4 separate regions of the Homo sapiens genome follow, and regions 1, 2 and 4 are each linked to region 3. The links come from fine-mapping of genetic effects on gene expression. A gene starts in region 3. Each other region holds a variant in brackets. All regions are shown on one strand. Distances are from middle to middle. Region 1 has its middle 150 kb from the start of TMTC2. Region 2 overlaps TMTC2 (transmembrane O-mannosyltransferase targeting cadherins 2). Region 3 holds the start of TMTC2 (transmembrane O-mannosyltransferase targeting cadherins 2). Region 4 overlaps TMTC2 (transmembrane O-mannosyltransferase targeting cadherins 2).

Evidence for each region. PIP is the estimated chance that this variant, and not a neighbour inherited with it, causes the effect.
Region 1: its variant is the best candidate, but not a certain one, in a credible set for the expression of TMTC2 in tibial nerve (GTEx, PIP 0.86).
Region 2: its variant is the best candidate, but not a certain one, in a credible set for the expression of TMTC2 in cerebellar hemisphere (GTEx, PIP 0.82).
Region 4: its variant is the best candidate, but not a certain one, in a credible set for the expression of TMTC2 in whole blood (INTERVAL, PIP 0.51).

Annotation. Positions count from the first base shown.
Region 1 is chr12:82,531,281-82,536,319 of GRCh38, reverse strand. No RefSeq gene overlaps it. Among named protein-coding and RNA genes, the nearest start is that of TMTC2, 150 kb to the left of the region's middle. RefSeq lists a silencer at 3,309-3,513. The variant A/G (reference allele first, on the strand shown) is at 2,153.
Region 2 is chr12:82,908,659-82,913,697 of GRCh38, reverse strand. All of the region lies in intron 3 of TMTC2 (transmembrane O-mannosyltransferase targeting cadherins 2), which reads right to left. Among named protein-coding and RNA genes, the nearest start is that of TMTC2, 220 kb to the right of the region's middle. The variant G/A (reference allele first, on the strand shown) is at 3,048.
Region 3 is chr12:82,684,395-82,689,394 of GRCh38, reverse strand. TMTC2 (transmembrane O-mannosyltransferase targeting cadherins 2) reads right to left here and starts at 2,489. Exons shown (of 12, transcript NM_152588.3): 1 at 1,726-2,489. The coding sequence starts at 1,808. RefSeq lists silencers at 1,469-1,528, 1,889-1,938, 2,509-2,608, 3,459-3,538 and enhancers at 2,649-2,858, 2,879-3,028.
Region 4 is chr12:82,945,546-82,950,584 of GRCh38, reverse strand. All of the region lies in intron 4 of TMTC2 (transmembrane O-mannosyltransferase targeting cadherins 2), which reads right to left. Among named protein-coding and RNA genes, the nearest start is that of TMTC2, 260 kb to the right of the region's middle. The variant T/GT (reference allele first, on the strand shown) is at 2,210.

The DNA of each region.
Region 1 (5,039 bases), 150 kb after region 3:
ATCCTGAGTTATCTTGTTAGCATAAACTATCTAGGGGCTCACCCTGAGTCACCTCATTACCATAAACTACAAATCTAGGGGATCCACTGTGAAAAACAAAGACATTCCTATCACTTAAGAATTTCCAGTTCAGATGTTTTCTCCCAAGAGTCAAGTGGAAACAAAGTCTAGCCCTCTCTTAAGGTAAAGTTAATTTATTTACTACTTACATGTGTAATGATAGTATCTATAAATTATTGAACATCTACAACATGGCAAGTACTTTACCTATTATCTCTAATTCTCATTAGAATTGGTATGAAGAATGTTATATATTACATTTTAAGATTAAGAAATAGTGATTTTGCTAAGGCCATAAGCTAGTAAACAGCTGACCTAGAATTAGCACCCTGGTCTGTCTAACTTCAAAGATTATGCTCTTTCTACTATTTTTAGCTTCTTTTTACTGTCAACAGATATGAACAAATACTATATGCTCCACCACTATCCCCACTCAGGCACCTCCTATGACTGTTCACTTATCCAAATGTTCAGTATCTTTTTGATTTTTTAAAAGTAAGAATTTTTAATTACATTCCTCAGATAAGAACTTAGAGTGAGAGTAACATTCTGCAAATTTTTGCAAGTGAGGAAAAATAAATATGTAGTAAAATGTAAGGGATATATATTTTATTGTTCTCCAATTTTAAGAGATAGAAAACATTTCCAATTGCTGGGCGAGGTGTCAGAACCCCGGCATCAGGAAGTGGTCGACTTGCCGGTTCGTAAGAATTTACCGACAACAGTATAGATTTGAAAAAGAAATGTTTAATAGGAAGAAAGAATGCTGCAAAGGGTGAAGTGGCACACCTCAGTTACAACCTCACCAACCTACCCCATAAGGTGGTCCTGCAGAATGAGGATGGGGACAAGGGCAAAGGCAAGGACAAACACCTCTAACTTTATTCCTGAAAAGAAGGAGGGGCAATTTCCTATAGAAAAATCAAAGTGCTGCTATTATAAAAAGGATGAATGTATAACTGATAGAAGAGAAAAGGGGAGAGAGGGAGAGGGAGAGAGAGAGAGAGAGAGAGAGAGAGAGAGGAGAGAGACAGAGAGAGAGAGAAATTCCATACCACCTCATTCACCAAATGGGACAATAACTCAAGCTGAAGCATTGGAGTAAGTGATGTGTTCCTGTACCTCCTCTCCCCTCTTGCATTCCCTTCATATGAAGCTTCCCTTTTTAAATGCTAGATTTCTGCCCCCAAATTTGAAATGATTTCTTTAAGGCAGGAAGCCTAGACCATTTCCCCACTGCTAGCTTGGGAAGTAAAGTCACTTGCCTTCTGCCGCATCTCTTCTTTGTTACTCAGTTTTACAAGCAGAGAGAAGTTGAAACTGCATTCGGTTACACAAGGACAATTAGTGATAGGGGTGTGCATATATACAAATAAGTCAAATAGGGACATTAATTATAATCTCCATGGAAAACTTGTTTAAAAGTCCTCACTTTTATGTACACAGAACAAATCGAAGGGAGGATTTCACGACATTAGGCTAGTGGTAAGTGGAGACACCTACTGAGGTAAATGAAGTTCTAAACCATTAAAATATACCAAAAACTTGAACTGGTTTATCTGATATTTCCACTGTGCTTTATGATACCAAATAGTGTCAACCGTGATAGCACTAAAAAGATAGCATCACACCACCATTCATATTATGTACAATCTAAATAAAAACAGAGTGCTTGCTGTGCAAAATGCAGCTTTAAGACATAGTCCCCCACAAAGATTGTTGGCCTAAGTTCTATATGGTGTACTGATTGCAAAAATATCCTAACTTCCAACCCTTTCTGTATCTACTCACTATGAGATGTGACATTCCAGTTCCTTCCATTAAGATATGGAGTGTGTTTCCCAGCCTTTAACTCTCTCTGGGGTAGCCTATGGCTTGTTTTGAACAAAAGAATATGTCACAAATAAAAGAAATTCAGTTCTGGTCCTAGACCTCAAATGGCCTTGTACACTTATAACTCACGCTCTTGGATTCTCGCCACCACCATGAAAACAAGTCTGGTTAGCCTGTTAAAGGGAAATGAGGAAAACTTGGTGGTGGGCAGAGTTTTCCCTGATGGGGCCATCCTAGATCACTTTACTTGGTTGGATGT[A/G]ATATGCTATGCAGAAGCATAGCTGACCTTCCATTTGGCTATAGAAGCATAAGTGACGCAGTTGAGATCATCAGAGCCCAGCTCAGAACTTCAGAACCAACCAGTCAATCCGTATACTCATAAGTTCATGTTTATTATTGTATGTTCCACTGAAGTGCTGTGTTTTTTATGCAGCATTATTGTGACAATGGATAACTGATTTGCCCTTCTTCTGTATAACAGCCACTGAGAGGAAGGAATCAGAGACCTCTTCCTGATACGTCTTCCATATATTTATCTTGCAAATATCTACGGGTAAATAAGGAATGAGAATAAATGTATAATACTTGACCATTCTGTTTTCATGAAGCATTACGAGGTCTTAGACCACAACCAGAATTTGCATTCTGGTTGTGTATTTGCACAGGAAAGTGATTACAAAACCACAACCAGAACATAAATTCACTTGATAACCATCAAACTATCACTTCACTTTGTGTTTTCCTAGATCTAGACACTATGTTCAGTAAAAATACAAATACTCACTGGTAGTTATCTTTACAACATACAGCTATGAACAAATTTTTAAAAAGAAGCCTTCGCTAAAAATAATTTGTTTATATGCTAAGTATAAAAATGGCTCCTTTCCAACAGAGGAAATTGCCTAGATGTTATACTTCAGCCAAAAGTATCAGATCAAGCTTGGAAATTACTTTTCCTGAAATCAAGCAACCATATGAAGTACATAATTTGAAATCAGAGTTGAGAATGAACACTTTAAACTTTACAGATGATATTTATTAACACTTATTACATGCTAATGGAATATTCAGAACTTCACAAAAAACCCATGCCCTTATGCCTCATTTTTATAGATCTTGGAGGACTCACCTCCTTTTTTAGATACCTGCTAGAGTAAAAGTTGCTCAACACCTGGGTCTATGGCAGAATCAAATTGCATCCGTACTTATAATTCTTTTCTGGTTATATTTGCACAATTAAATCTCAGCAGAGATTTTTTTTTTATTATACTTTAAGTTCTAGGGTACATGTGCACAACGTGCAGGTTTGTTACATATGTATACATGTGCCATGTTGGTGTGCTGCACCATTAACTCCTCATTTACATTAGGTATATCTCCTAATGCTATCCCTCCCCCCTCCCCCCACCCCATGACAGGCCCCAGTGTGTGACATGCCCCTTCCTGTGTCCAGGTGTTCTCATTGTTCAATTCCCACTTACAAGTGAGAACACGCGTGTTTGGTTTTCTGTCCTTGCGATAGTTTGCTGAGAATGATGGTTTCCAGCCTCATCCATGTCCCTATGAAGGACATGAACTCATCATTTTTTATGGCTGCATAGTATTCCATGGTGTATATGAGCCACGTTTTCTTAATCCAGTCTATCATTGTTGGACATTTGGGTTGGTTCCAAGTCTTTGCTATTGTGAATAGTGCCACAATAAACATACATATGCATGTGTCTTTATAACAGCATGTTTTATAATCCTTTTGGTATATACCCAGTAATGGGATGGCTGGGTCAAATGGTATTTCTAGTTCTAGATCCTTGAGGAATTGCCACACTGTCTTCCACAATGGTTGAACTAGTTTACAGTCCCACCAACAGTGTAAAAGTGTTCCTATTTCCCCACATCCTCTCCAGCACCTGTTGTTTCCTGACTTTTTAATGATCGCCATTCTAACTGGTGTGAGATGGTATCTCATTGTGGTTTTGATTTGCATTTCAACCTAACAATGACTTTCTTCACAGAATTGGAAAAAACCACTTTAAAGTTCATATGGAACAAAAAAAGAGCCTGCATTGCCAAGACAATCCTAAGCCAAAAGAACAAAGCTGGAGGCATCATGCTACCTGACTTCAAACTATACTACAAGGCTACAGTAACCAAAACAGCATGTTACTGGTACCAAAACAGAGATATAGACCAATGGAACAGAACAGAGCCCTCAGAAATAATACCACACATCTACAACCATCTGATCTTTGACAAACCTGACAAAAACAATAAATGGGGAAAGAATTCCCTATTTAATAAATGGTGCTGGGAAAATTGGCTAGCCATATGTAGAAAGCTGAAACTGGATCCCTTCCTTACACCTTATACAAAAATTAATTCAAGATGGATTAAAGACTTAAATGTTAGACCTAAAATGGAGATTTTTAGTCTCTTCCATTCCCAAATCTCCTCTACCTCTATCTTATTCTTAAATAAGTTAATTCCCAAAGCAAATGAATAACCATTCCTCAAGTAAGTGAAAAGAATACACAGTTTCCAAATGCCTTTTACCTGTATACTTTATGGGATGCTATTTTTTTCCCTCTTTACTCAAAAGAATAGCAATTCTTTACCATAGGTTAATACATAATCATTTGAAATCAGATTATATTCTTGATGGGCTGAAATGAAAGAAGTCAGTTTCCTGAATACAAATAAATGGTATTTGTCTCTTTGAATACTGTGATAGGAAGCTTTTTAATTATAGGCTTTTTATTGAAGTTTGGCTTCCTTATCAAATATTTTTTTTCTACCAATTTCATAAAGCAACATGCCCAGAGGACTGAATTTATTAATCTATATTTTGATGGGGAGCTATTTAGTTTTGTCCACTTACTTGTTTTAAAGATGGGAAAGTAGTAGCAAAATACACCCTGTGTCCTAAAACGATGATGAAATTCGGGGGCTACTCCAGGTAAGAAGTGAGAATAAAAGACTGGCGTGCTGAAACATAACATTTAGGCAATTTTATAATAGGGCAATGGATACTTCCAAGAAAAAACTTATAATTGCTCTTTTAAAGGTATAAATATGCTGGGCACGGTGGCTCATGCCTGTAATCCTAGCACTTTGGGATGCCAAGGGTGGCTGATCACTTGAGGTCAGGA
Region 2 (5,039 bases), 220 kb before region 3:
GTTATACTTCCATGTATTAAAAAGAAGCTAGTACCCAGAGGGTTAAGTAAGATAGAGGAAAAATCAGGAAATATGTCAAAACCAGTGATTAATGAATATTACCAATTAAAAAATATGACTAGATGTGTGGTCTTAGATATAAAGCCATATATTCTATTCATGAGTTTTAAATAATCTTGTCAGATTATTGACATGTCAGGATGATTAAAACTCATAGAGAAGCCACATTTTCCTTTCAAATAATCAGAACTGGGTCTTAGGATATACTTCTTTAAACCCTAATTTTTAACTTAAAACCTCAAAAGTAAATGTCTGCTCCAGGCTCAATGTGAGAATGAGCTGAGAACCAGCAAAAGCCAAAACCAAAGTATGATGGTCCTCTGCCCAAAGCAGTGCACAGCCTCTTGCTTCTGGAATGGTACCACAGAGAACAGAAGCATGGCATTAGGACTTTAGTGACTTCATCAACTGCCCTCAAAAACTATCTCAAAATCATTGTGCTAAAGTGTAATGGCAAAAGAAATTTTAAAATTCTGTACTGTTGCTTCCAAATAATAGCATTTCAAGAACAAAAAGTAATTTTAAATTTATCACTGTGATTAGAGATAAGAAAAATGCAGAATACATGGGTTTGTACAGTAATCGTAATATACTAATGTTTTCATTATGCAAGCACAGAAACTCCTTTCTAACTTAAAATTATTGTAAATATTTACATGAATATGAATATTACCACCCATTCTTTTTTTTTTTTTTTTCAGACAAGGTCTCAACTCTGTCACCCAGGCTGGAGTGCAGTGGCGTGACCATAGCGTACTGCAGCTTCGACCTCCCCAGGATCAGGTGATCCTCCCACCTCAGCCCCCCAAGTAGCTGCAACTACAGGTATGCACCACCACACTCAGCTATTTTTTGAATTTTTTGTGGAGACAGGGTTTCACCATGTTGCCCAGGCAGGTCTCAAACTCCTGGGCTCAAGTGATCCACCCATCTCTGCCTCCTAAAGTGCTAGAATTATAGGCGAGAACCACTGCACCCAACCACCATTCATTCTTAACCACAATTGTGAAGGTAACATGATGCCATCATCTTTGGAAAATATTCAGATTACTCAACACCAGTACTGCAAACCATCAAAACTTGTTTGCAAATCTCAAAGAGATTAAGTCAACTGACTTGGTGAAAAAGGAAAACATTTCAAAATATCTTAGACCTTGTGGTCTTTGCTGGTAGTCTCATGAAATACAAGTTGAGATATTTACTCTCTTATCCTAAGCAAGGAGAGGTAAGAAGAGCAGAAAAAAAATCACATTTCTTTATGATATGACTTCCAAGTTCCTACACAGAGCCCCAAATATTAAACGACTGTAAGTTTCCTCTGCTATTCCAGGCATCTTAAGAAGAAAACGCCATGCTTTGACACCTGGGTAATCTGTTCTTGTCAAAACTTGACTCTGAGCTGATATATTACATTTCTAACCCAGTTCCTTCTTTCTACACTTAAAATGTCTACAGAGAAATTTTTCATAATTAAAACATATGTTTAAAGTGCTTCCAAAAAAGATATTAATGCTGATATTTTAATATCTTATGTGTTTTGCAAAAAGGAACTGAATTATGCTGTTTAAGATCACTGAAAGAATGGGCTGAGAGGCAGCTGGTATTATTGGGAATTAGAATCCTTAAATACAAGACAAAATAAAACCTCCAATACAGTTCTGCTCTCAAGATGATGTTTTTGTTGTTCTAAATTTCCTTCTAGGTACTGTCTAACCAAATCCGAGTATGGGCTGGACGAGGTGGTTCACACCTGTAGTCCCAGCACTTTGGGAGGCCTATGCGGTCAGATCACTTGAGGACAGGAGTTTGAGACCAGCCTAGCAAACATGGCAAAACCCCATCTCTACTAAAAATACAAAACTTAGCCAGGCATGGTTAATTACAGGCGCACACCTGTAATTCCAGCTACTGGGGAGGCTGAGGCACACGAATCACTTGCACCGGGAGGCAGAGGTTGCAGTGAGCCAAGATCGTGCCACTGTACTCCAGCCTGGGCAACAGAGCAAGACGCCATCTCAAAAAAAGAAAAGAAAAAAATAAATAAGAATACGGCTTATACTTAGAAAACAATATTATCATTCTTTAAAAAAGAACGTCTAATATGTTTGATCATTATTTCATTTTGAGCAAGCACATGATATTTATGTCCCTCCTAGATCCCCTTGGATGATAATGTTAAAACTGCAAAGAAATTTACACTGAGAAGCCATGGTCAAGTGATGATGATAACAGAGTGCTGGGAAGGGAAGAGAGTGGTCCCTTTAAATGACACAGAGGCTGGAGGTGGGCGGGGGTGGGGGAAGGGCTGGGTAGAGGAGGGCATGGTTCCTTGCTAGGGCTCCACCCAACAGACCTAGGGGAGGACAGGCACTCCTGCCTTCCTGCCCAAATGTTGCATTTTCCAAGACCACCCTGGCCCCCCCACACCCAAACCCTGGGGCTGTAAAAACCCGAGACCCGCCGGGCGCAGTGGCTCACACCTGCAATCCCAACACTTTGGGAGGCTGAGGTGGGTGGCTCACAAGGTCAGGAGATAGAGACCATCCTGGCTAACACGGTGAAACTCTGTCTCTACTAAAAATACAAAAAATTAGCCGGGCATGGTGGCGGACGCCTGTAGTCCCAGCTACTCGGGAGGCTGAGGCAGGAGAATGGCGTGAAACCGGGTGGTGGAGGTTGCAGTGAGCCAAGATCACACCACTGCACTCCAGCCTGGGCGACAGAGCGAGACTCTGCCTCTGTCTCTAAAAAAAAAAAAAAGAAAAAAACAACCCAGAGACCCTAGCAGGCAGACACACAGAAGCTGCTGCTGGATGGCAAGAGGAACACATCTGCAGAAAATGACAAGAGGCTGGACACAGACAGGGGCATACCAGAAGGACATCCACCAGCCAAATGAGGCAGAGTTTGGCCGGAGCAATCAGAGGAGAGCCCAGGCTGGGGAGCAGCCGGACTCCATGGGAAATCCATCTCCCTTCTGGCCCTCC[G/A]TCTGCTAAGAGCTACTTCTTAATCAAACCTTCCACTCATTCTCCAAGCCCACATGTAATCCGATTCTTCTGATACACCAAGGTAAGAAACCCTGGGATACAGAAATCCCTCTGTCCTTGTGATAAGGAAGGGGGTCTAATTGAGCTAACACAAGCCGCCTATAGAGGGCTAAACTAAAGGAGCATACTGTAACATGCCCACTGGGGCTTCAGTAGCTGTAAACATTCACCCCCTAGGCACTGCCGTGGGGTTGGAGCCTGGGGTTGGAGCCTGCCTGTCCGTATGTTCCCCTAGAGGTTTGATCAGAAGAAGTGAGCCACACCCTCTTCACACGCGCTGTGAGGGGGACAGGGGAAATTTTCCCATTTCAGTAAGATTTCTAATTTAATGCCCACATGCATAAAAATTAAAATACGGCTCACACTTCCTCTACATCAAATCCTTTTACAATAATTATATGACTTGAATATCTCAATTTTTTCCATAACTTCTTGAGACTTATCTGGAATTCTCTTCAAAATCCATGATCACCAGAAATAGGCACCAGTGCGTGATAAGGCTAAAACTAAGACAGGTGTTTGTCCTCTCGAAAATCTGCTCTTTAACAATATCAGCAATTGTATCTATATTACAGAAAGGAAGGAACATATTTTACCCTGCTTTAGAGGGTTCAAATACCTGTAATTTGATAGTGTTTTTACACATATTTTTAGCTTCTTTTAAGTTTTCTTTTGCTGAAAGAGAATTAAATATTTCAAAAATAGTAGCTCTGATCTTAACTCTATTCTCAAATAGAACTTCTAACATAGCTAATCATTCCTTAATAGGTGTCAGATTTGAAGATATTTCATAGGTCTCATTTTCTGACAGTATAGTGAAACTCTATGTTCAGAGAATCACACCTTGTACAGAACCAATAAAAATGCTACATTAAAAATAAAAATATTTGCAAATGAATGTATTAATTGGTTGGAAAGTAAGGGCAAACCTGAAGTCTAAAAACTTCATGAGGCCAGGCACGGTGGCTCATGCCTGTAATCCCAGCACTTTGGGAGGCTGAGGCGGGTGGATCACAAGGTCAGGAGAATGAGACTGTCCTGGCTAACATGGTGAAACCCCATCTCTACTAAAAATACAAAAAAATTGGCAGGGTGTGGTGGCACGTGCCTGTAATCCCAGCTACTTGGGAGGCTGAAGGAGGAGAATCACTTGAACCTGGGAGGTGGAGGTTGCAGTGATCCGAGATCGCACCACTATACCCCAGCCTGGGCGACAGAGTGAGACTCCATCTCAAAAACAAACAAACAAAAACCTTCATGAATGCAGGACTCCAGAAAAGTAAACTAGCTGTGAAGATGGTATTCACCTTGCATACACTAGATCTGTCAAACAGATAAACCTAGGTTTAGGCTTTAATGAACTTCATGCAGGAGGTCACACTGCAGAAGCCACATAAACTGTGATCTGCCTGAAAGGAAACAGACTTCATCACTTAACTAGCAACAAAAAAATTTAAAAAACTTAGAGAATGAAAAGATGGGTGACTGTTTGGCCTATTTGGACAAACAGAAAATAGGCAAAAATATTCCTTGGGAATTCTTATGCGTAGGTCCACCTTCACAAAGTTTGGGGCAATACTACATCTGTTGCCTGAAGAGTATCCAAGCAAAAACACTTTTAAAACTACAATTGTAGCAGAGATTTTTAGAAAGATATTACAAGAATATTATGTGTAACATTGTACCAATTGAACAAAACACAGAGAAAAAAGTTACTAAAACTGACCCAAAAGCAAATTTGGCTCTTTCCAAAACTATGAAAGAAATTAAATCAACAGGAAAAAAAAAGAGTCATCTATAACCAAAACATTATGCCTAGCTAGTTTTGCAGGTAAATTCTACCTAATATAGAAGAAAAAAATAATTCTAATTTTACATAAAATCTTTGAGGGAATGAAAAAGAAGTAATGCTCCTAACCTGATTCTATAAGG
Region 3 (5,000 bases):
CAAGAGCCAGTAACTGCCCACACTGACCCAAGGTGGTTTTAGTGAAAAGTCACCCATCAAGTTGCATTATTATAGTAAGTTTCTTTTTTTAAATAAACTCTATATTCTTGGTTTAAATGCTTACTATTCAAACCGCCCCCAACAGAGCCAGTAACTGCCCACACTGACCCAAGCTGGTTTTAGTGAAAAGTCACCCATCTTTGGAAACAAGGGCTTTTTCCACGAATATGCTAGAAATAGCAGGTGCACCATTACACAAAATTGGAGAGAACAGAAATTTACCTCACTCCTACAGACCATTTCTCAGAGCATGCTGTGTAGTTGCTAAAATCAGTATGCTGCGTAAAAGTTAAGAAAAAATGTATGTCTAACAGTGGTTCCCTATCAACTAGCCTCTGGTAGGCACTACATAAAATGCATTAAGACGGGTTTGCTGGATGTTCTGGCACCTATTATCAGGTGATTTTTTAACAGAGATGTGAAGATGCTTTTAGCAGGAGAATGGGCACACCAGAGAATACAGAATGTGGCTAATTACGACGAGAAGAAGATTCTGCCTTCACCTCCCCTCACTGTCAACCACTTTGCGTAAGTGCTCTCACTGCCTCGCCCTAACCCTGGGGATCCATTCACTTTTCATAGCTCAGAGAGGCTGCTGAAAAGCTGTCAAAGTAAATCTGTGCTCACTTTTTGGATGGTTTAATTTCAATGGAGCATGAAACACCCCAGGACGGTTAATAAGTTTAGCCAGGCGTGCTGTTATCCCTAATATATTTTAATTATGCATCTGTTTTAATTGTAATCAGATTAAGACACCGGAAGGACACAAATTGGAATTTTCCCTAATGGATATAGGGGCTTTTCATCACTTTCTGAACACTAATAACGTTTAAAAGATAGGAAGAGACACCAACACAACGGTGACATTTTCCAGAAATCGATGCAGTTTCTTTGACAACACAGTTCAGGTCTCATTAGCCACCCAAACTAACCTAAGTGCAGAAGACAACTTCAGTCTCTAGGGGCGTCTTCTTCTCCAATTAGTACAAAAGAACCACTAACATCTAATGTACAACTCCCAAACAGAAATGAGAAAGCCGAGGCTTTTATAAAGTGCTGCCCAATGGATTGGTGAAGGAGGCTAGGGCGGCGGGAGAGACCATCAGCAGCATTATTTTGGCTCAAAGTAAAAGTCTATACACGTTAAAAGGGAAAGTTAAAGCAGAGAACGATCTCCCTTTTCACAATTTTGGCAACTATCAAACGTGTGTTTTAACTTCGGGAAATAAAAGTGTCCCATCAATAAAAGGAAACGGGACAGGGAGGATCTATCAGGGATCGAGGAGAGGCTTCCTCCCAACCAGACGTAAAATCACTTAATGTGCTTTGTTGCATCAAGGAATACCTAAGACTTTAATTTAATACGTTCATTAAACAGTTTCCCAAATTGCCGGGATTTCCGCTAAGAAACTCAAGCGTCTGCCAACAGCCGAGAAGCAAGGGAGAGAACCTGCTGCAAACTAGGAGCGGAAACTCCCTCGGCCCGCCCAGCGCGCCTCACGTCCCCGGTGTTTGATTTAGGTGTTAATGTTTACGTGTCGCCTAAACCATCAGGTGCTGAACCAGTTCCTCCAAGACGCACTTTGAGCCTTAAAGAGGGAAGCTTCAGAGCCACTGCGGAGTGTGCCCCCTGCAGCCCGTCGCCCCCTCCTCTCGGCCCCTTACCTGTCATCATAGCAGAAATCCGCACTCAGGGTGTTGAGATACAAGGCGAGCCCCAGAGCGCTGCTCACCAACTCTGCAATCATCTCTCCACCGCCTTCCCTCCGGCTCGGCTCCCAGCGCGAGGGCAGCAGCGGCAACAAAAAACAGAAGCATCAATCTCCACCTTCCGCCGCCTTCTCCTCCCAGCTTCACTTTTCCCTCGCTTCCCCACCCTCCCTCCCTCGGGTCCTTCCAATCCACGACTCCTCTCCTCCTCCTCGCGCCCGTCTCCGCAGCTCCTGCGTCCTCCCCGGGTGCGGGCTCACACCACACTCCCCATGCCCGGCGCCCGCAAGCGGTGAGCGGCGTTTGGGCTCCGCGTCCCCCGGCGGAAGCGCAGGGCTGGTCTTTCGCGCGGGTCGCGATCCCCACCCTAACCCATGGCAGTTTGGGGCGTCCTAGGTGAGGAGTGGGACTCGGAGGAGGTGGAAGGGTGCGGGATGGGGGCAGAGGGACCGGACCAAGCCGGGCTCTGGGACCAGCTGGAGGAAGAGAGAGAAAGAGGCGCGGGTGGGAGGGACAAGGCGAACCGCCTCCCCTCGCCGCCTCCCGGGCGCACTGCTCCGGTGTCGCTCGGGCGGACTCCGGCCGCCAAGGCAGCTGCTGCACATTCAATGTTTATTAGCTCCCTCCCAGCCCCAGCCCCAGCCCCAGCCCCAGCTCCCTTCTCCAGTGAAGTGAGAAGCGGTGGCTGGAGACTCCAGAAGCTCCCGCGTGGGGTTCTCGACGCGGCCCCCCGCGCCTGCGTGACCAACCCTCCATCCCGGCTTGGCCCAGCCCCTTTCTCCACCCAGATCCTCCCGGAAGGCTCCTCCTACCCTGCCCCTCGGGCTGGAGGCTCCTCCCACCCTCCCCGGCCTGGAGGCTCCTCCTACCAGCCTCCCGTCCTCTTGTTTCTTTCACCTTCGATTTCACTCTGGAAAGCCCCCGGGACCCAAGGGCGACGGCTGGAAGACAGCCCAAAGGAGTAGATACAGTGCACCCTGGGAGGGGAAGCTGGGAGAAAGGAGGTCGAGGAGGAGGTGGTCGGTCGCCCCGCTGCTGCCTGGCAGCGCCTGGCACGGCTGAATCTCAGCCACAGCGCTGTGTGTGCCAAGAGCTGCCAGGCGTAAGTCCGGTCAGCTGGAGAGACTTCTGAGACCGGGAGAGGAAGAACAGGTTTGGCGACTGCTGCAGCTTCGGTTGTCACAAACTCACTGGCGATCTCTCACGCACACTGTGTGTGAGACTAAATGGGGGGGAGGAGGTAGTATTGGAGAGCTTGGAGGCAACTTAGGAAGGAGAGATTTCAGCTCTTAGCCTACGGTTGGCCACAATGTCAGTGGAAAGACGTGTAGGGAGAGAAACGTTTCCTCCTTCAGTAAGGTTAAAAAGAAAGGACCCCAAAAAGGGAAAGAAAGACACACACACACCCCGCAGCAACTGCCCGGGGACCCCTTCGTGGTTTCAGAGGGACTGTCGGGTTGACCCTGAGAACACAGGAGAGAAACCTCTAGTGCAAGCCGGTACAGCATTATACTTAAACCTAGTAAGGCAGTAAGCTAATGCCCTTTCCTTTCCGCTCGGAGGCAGGACTGGATGGAAAGCATCCAACATGGTGAAATATGGTGTAGAATGGTCTGTGTAGAACAAGCTCTGGGTACTAAAGTTGCAAGACCAAAGAGGACCCAGGGCTGCCTGACACGCCTCCTCCCGGCTTGTTGGCTTTCTGGCCAGGAGAGTAGCTCCGGTGCACCGCGATGTACACTACTGCAGCGCCCCCTGCTGCATAGTAACCACAAGGTGTGGAAGACAGGTCTGTTTTGCATGCGGGCCGACTGGTTCCAACCAAGAGCAGCACCTAACCAGCAAGCTCTCCGAAACTGTGGCAAGAAATTGAGCCCCCTGGGTGTCTAGCAGTGGCCTGGAAAGAAAATACCGTGGTCTGGGCTTCTGTAGAACAAAGCTACATATTTCCCTGATTTCACAAGGAAATCTGAGAAATCTGTATTGGATACACACAGATAAAATGATGAATATTTATTAATATTATACCTGTTATGCCATCCACAGTAGCACATTTTTTGTGCCCTGGACAAATATATGTAAACAAAAATAAAAGGAATTATGTCTTTACAGGTAGGGACTGATCTTTTACCCTTTTCCTCCATAACCTTTGCTCACTTGAAAATTTTGAAAATCATATCAGTTAGTCCATCCTGATGCTCTGTGTCTCTCCAATGCACTTACATGCTGAGATATATATAGTATATATAAAATATGTATATGGTGTCCTAGAACACTGAAGGAAGAACACATACTGTGGGATCAGATGTTTAAGTTTGAGTGCATACTCTGCTATTACTATTTGGGCGATCTTTGGCCAGTCGTTCAACCTCTTTGTGACTCTGTTTTCTAATCTATGAAACAGTGATAATAATAGTACTTATCTTATGAGTACTGTTATTATGAGTATTAAAGTAGTTAACCTATGTAAAATATCTAAAAGGGACCAGGAAAGTGCTACAGAAGTATTAGCTAGTATATCATTATTACTATGCTTTCTAGCTTCCTCGTTTCATTTTACTTGTTAACAAAAACCTGGACAGTTACCTCCAAAACACATCCTATCACATCTTTACTACTTGAGTCCACAGCCCAGCTGCCCTCATCTCCTGCATAGACAAATGCAGTAGCCCTCTAAGTGGTCCCCGTACTTCTACCCCTGCAATGCCTCCCTTCCCCAATTTTAACTTTAGGCAGAAGTTTCCTTTGAAAACCTATACATTCCCAATTTTTAAATGTTCCACAACTTCCTGTTGTATTTTTAAATGTCCAACAACTTCCTGTTTTACAGCTAATAAAACTAATTCTTACCATGGCCAGCCAAGCCTTCATTTAGCCCAGACTACCCCTCCCGCTTCATGTTGTGTTCATATGTGTACAACACAGACATCCTTCTCAGGAACTAACCACTTTCTCTTCCTCCTGCATGAGGTTCTTCTCCTCAAACCTTCTCTAGCTCCTTCTCACCATTCAGGTCTTAGCTCAAATGGCATAACCTCAGAAATAAAGTAGGCTCTCCCCCATCAATCTCTATCCAACCACCATGTATTAGTTTCTTCATAGTATGTATTAGTATCTGGAAGCACCACTGAGTGGAAGCTCCATGAGGTCAGGGATCCTGTCAGTCTTCTTTTCCACATAAAACCCAGAGCCTATAACATCTGGACACGGAGAAGAAACTTTAAAAAGAT
Region 4 (5,039 bases), 260 kb before region 3:
TATTATGTATTTCTCACAATGAACCCATAAAGGTATCAACCTTATCTTAAAATGAAGGGTTCAAAGATCAGAATGGTTAAGCAACTTAAGTCTATGCAGCTAGTTGTTATTGTTGGATCTAGGATTCGGAGAACTACATTGTATATTCATATATGCATAATTTACTTTGTACCTACCTTTTGAATATATAACTAAGACTACATTTTCTTCCACATGTCAAAATAATAGGTGTGAATATATTTTCCTAGTTTAAAAACAGTACTCAACAGGAAGTAATAAAGATTAATACTTGGGGTTTAAGTTTTTCATATTATTTCTTTCCACCCTTGCAATTAGCAATAGCAATTATTATTCTTTTTACTTTAGAGTCTAAAAATGAAGGGGGAGAATTTAAATAATTTGTCCATGATAATGTAGCTGTCAAGACTCAAGATGAGATTCAAATTCAGAGGTATCAGGCTTCAAATCACCAACACTGGGAATAGGTGACTGCTTTTAGCTTAGTATTAATACCCGCCCTTTCTCTCTGGTTCATATACACACTGCTTCTTAATTATCTCAGTCAACAAATTTCTCTTCTTTTCTTATTTATACATGCACTTCCCAACATGTAAGCATCTTGAATTTGCATCGTGAGATAAACTGCAGCCTCCCAATGACAGTCAACCTCTATTTTACCAAGAAATGCATCACAACCAATACACTTATAAAGGGGTTTCCTTGAGTTACTCTTGTGCTTTGGACTCACTCCTCTTCATGGACGTGGTTGCCAGTGAGATAAGACATAGCCCCAAAATGGCATAGCCAGGGAACACTAAGAAATAGAATAAAATTACCAGCTAACAAACTCTTCAGATTTTATTATCATATAATTATATCAAATTTCTAGACATTATATTAACGTCTCTTATATTATATAATGCAACTCAACCCAATGTTGCAGATGAAGAATAAGGATTAAATAATTTGCCTAAGGTCAGACACAGGACCAATAAATGAATGATTTGAAGCCAAGTCTGTTTAAAGCCAAAGACATGCTCTGAAGTATTTCACTGAGCTGCCTCCAAAGTACAAGGTTGCCAGATAATTTAATTTAAAAAATTTTAAAAAAGCAACTTTTCCCCTTTCCCCATTACCCTTCCCATGAAAACAAATATGACTCTGGTAAGTCCATATATATCTTCTGGAATCACAGTCAAATCTCTTTCAAGTATTTCCTTCATCCTCTGGGAGAATTTTTATTTAAAACAAACAAAATTAAGAAATGAAAAGCATCTAACACAAGTTAAAGGCACTAACCACAAATGATTTAACTTTAAACCTATATACTGATTTACTATCTATTCTTTGCTATTTGCAGGTGCTATCCAACATGGACGTCTAATCTTTATGTAATTTCTTGGAGAAGAAACACCTATCAGTTGGAGAGTGTGTAACCACTGCAGAGGAACTCCTACGCTGGAATACAAGCATAGGCCAAAACCTTTCTTGCTCAGTAAAACTCAATGTAGTTAGACTGACTTGTTTATTCATTCAAAACATATTTTGAAAGTACCATTATGGAGGTTTAATGATTAGAAAAGATAAATTATTTAAAAAGCAGCGCCAATGCTGAGTTGATATGCTTTGAATGCTTTGGTATAGTATGATACACTATGGAAGTCCACAGCCAGAAAACCTAACTTAAACAAGTTTGTTCAGGCAGAGGGAAGAAAAAAGGAAAAAAAAAAATAGCTTTTGAGAATTCTACAGAAATCAACACACTCAAAAAAATTACAAAAAGAAAAAAAAGCTTCACGGCAAGATTCCATCACAGATATGGTTATAATTTGGGTTAGAGATGACCCCATGGGCACACAGAGATTTAGTGCAATGCACTCACTTTAAACATAAATGTTCAACAAAGTGGGTGTTTTCTTTGTCCCTTAACAGCAGTGCACTAATGAAAGTCTGCTGTTAAAGCAATAAATTATGAAAGGGGAAAAGGTATCATGTATCTTATGGACCAGCGGGAATAGGTGTTAGGTCATACAAGCAGTTTCTAAGTTAAAAATAAGGAAGATGAGTTCCAAAAATGAAAGTCTGAAGCTATATATATATTTTTTTGCTTGGAATAGATTTTTCAACTTAGCAACAATTCACTTGAAGGTTTATCCTGAATACTTCAGAATTAGAAGAAAAACACTATTCATAACAATCTTTTTTTTTT[T/GT]TGTTTAAATTAAGGTAGGGTTTCCCTCTGTTGTCCAGGCTGGAGTGCAGTGGTATAAGCATGGCTCACTGCAGCCTGAGTCTCTTGGGCTTAAGGAATTCTCCCACATCAGCCTCCTAAGTAGCTGGGACTATCGGCATTTGCCACCAGGCCTGGCTATTTTTGCTTTTTAAATAGAAACAAGGTCTCACTATATTGCCCAGGCTGGTCTTGAACTTCTGGGCTCAAGTGACCCTCGTGCCTTGGCCTCCCAAAGTGCTGGATTACAGATGTGAGCCACTGAGCTTGGCCTGTAACAATCTTTCTAAAGTTGCATTTGTTGATTTAATTTTGGTGCAGAAAAGGAATGGCCCCCTTCACTGAACTCAGTGGTCATAGAGAATGAGGAGCAATTCATTGCCATAGGCATCATTTAGCGGCTTCAGTCATGGAAGCAGGAGCCAAATTGGTAGACAAGGCTGAAGAATGGAGAAAAAGGGCTGAGAGACGTTGACAGAATGATGGAGGTCTGGGGATCAAGATGCCAAATTAAGAGAAAACTGGCAAATACACTCAGCAGCACTTGCTTCTATTCTCTTTTCTATTCATTCTACCCTTATATTTAATAAGGCTACTGGTCTTATTTCCCTTGACTTTTCTTTAAAACAAAACAAAACAACAACAAAAAAACAGGGCGTAAGAAATGGCCAACTTGCTTATTTTTCCAAGCCATCGATTGTTGCTTTTGATTAAAAATTGCACTCTGAGGCTGGGCACGGTGGCTCACGCCTGTAATCCCAGCACTTTGGGAGGCCGAGGCAGGCGGATCACCAGGTCAGGAGATCGAGACCACGGTGAAACCCCGTCTCTACTAAAAATACAAAAAATTAGCCGGGCATGGTGGCGGGCGCCTGTAGTCCCAGCTACTCGGGAGGCTGAGGCAGGAGAATGGCGTGAACCCGGAAGGCGGAGCTTGCAGTGAGCCGAGATCGCGCCACTGCACTCCAGCCTGGGCGACAAGAGCGAGACTCCGTCTCAAAAAAAAAAAAAAGAAAAAAAAAGAAAAAAAAATTGCACTCTGCTCCAACACCCAGTTTCAGGAGACTGAGTACACACTTTGCAGCCCAGGTTTGCACCTAACACTAAAGTTGGTCTTTGAAGATTTAGAGATTTTTTTCTAAAGAAATTTTATTTCAAACAGGCAAATGTACAGGGGACACACTCAAACACAATACCATCTTTTAAAGGCTGTCCTTAGAATAACAGTGCAGTTAAAACCCAGTCACCCTGTAGACTTAAGACAACTTGGATTGTTCTAACCAGAAATTTCTGTTGTTAAAGAAAGTGCATGCCTGGGCCGGGTGCGGTGGCTCACGTCTGTAATCCCAGCACTTTGGGAGGCCGAGGAGGGCAGATTACGAGGTCAGGAGATCGAGACCATCTTGGCTAACACTGCGAAACCCCGTCTTTACTAAAAAATACACAAAATTAGCCCGGGGTGGTGGCGGGCGCCTGTAGTCCCAGCTACTTGGGAGGCTGAGGCAGGAGAATGGCGTGAACCCGGGAGGTGGAGCTTGCAGTGAGCCGAGATGGCGCCACTGCACTTCACCCTGGGCGACAGAGCAAGACTCTGTCTCAAAAAAAAAAAAAAGAAAAGAAAAGTGCATGCCTACTCTCTGAGTCTGATGATGACATGTGGTTTCTAGAACAAGGCTCCATCTGTCTCTCTATTGCTAGATGGCTGTTGGACATTTCCTCACACTGTCCTCCTTATTATCAGAATAGCAAGATGGCATCACTTTTACCCAAACCCTGTGCCATGAAACACCCTCAGCTTATCATCTGTAACAATAGGGTCGCTAAGTGCAAAATGAAATGAGAGGCACAATGATTAAAAGCAATGGAGATGTGAAGCAAAAAGGGCATCCTTAGGTATTCTTTAATTCTGCAGGGGTAAATGGGAGAGAAGAAGGGAGAAAGAGAGAAGGAAAGATTCTAAAGTAATCTATGTACACCCTTCACACATGAGGAATTTAAGGAAAACATATGTACCTAAATCAATGTGCATGCAACTATTATTTATTGAACACATATGCTAAGCACTATTGCAGACACTAAGAATATATATAAAAACAATGCTTTGGTGAAGCTTACATTTTAGCAATATACAAAGTAAACTAGGTTTACATTAATTTTAATATCATTATTTGTCATTATAGGTAGTAAATTATATAGTTCACTAGAAGGTAATACATGCAATGTTTTAAAGAATAAAGTATAGGGGAACAGAAGTCTGAGAGAGGCAGATGGGTTGCTAATTTAAATAGAATTGGCTAGGAGGCCTCATTCAGAGAGTAACATTGAAGCAAAGAATTGAAAGAAATGAGTGATATAATTTAGCTATAGAAATAATGTATTATTTAGTAGAAATAATATGTAAGAAAAAATAAGCAGCAGATGACACATTCATTTTTTAAATTCACTATCATCTAAATATCCAGATGTCCTTCAAACTTCAATTACACTTTAAGTAACTTTTCCATCATATAGGGGAAACCACAGTTAGGTTTTGTACAAGAAAGAAAGTAAATTAAGTGAAAGACAATATTACTATATTTCCTGGTGTGTCTAGGAAATAATTCTTAACTCACAGTAATTGGAAATCTGCAGAGGACTGATTGGAACTACACAAATAAATTTACATCTGTTCATTTTTCTTCAGGAGCAGAGAAATAAGAAACTTTTTTCATAATGCAAAACCTCCTTCTGAGAAAATTGAAATTAATTTACTTGAAATTCTGCTGCACATCAGCCTGCACTTTCCATGTTAGCGTAATTTTAGGAACAACAG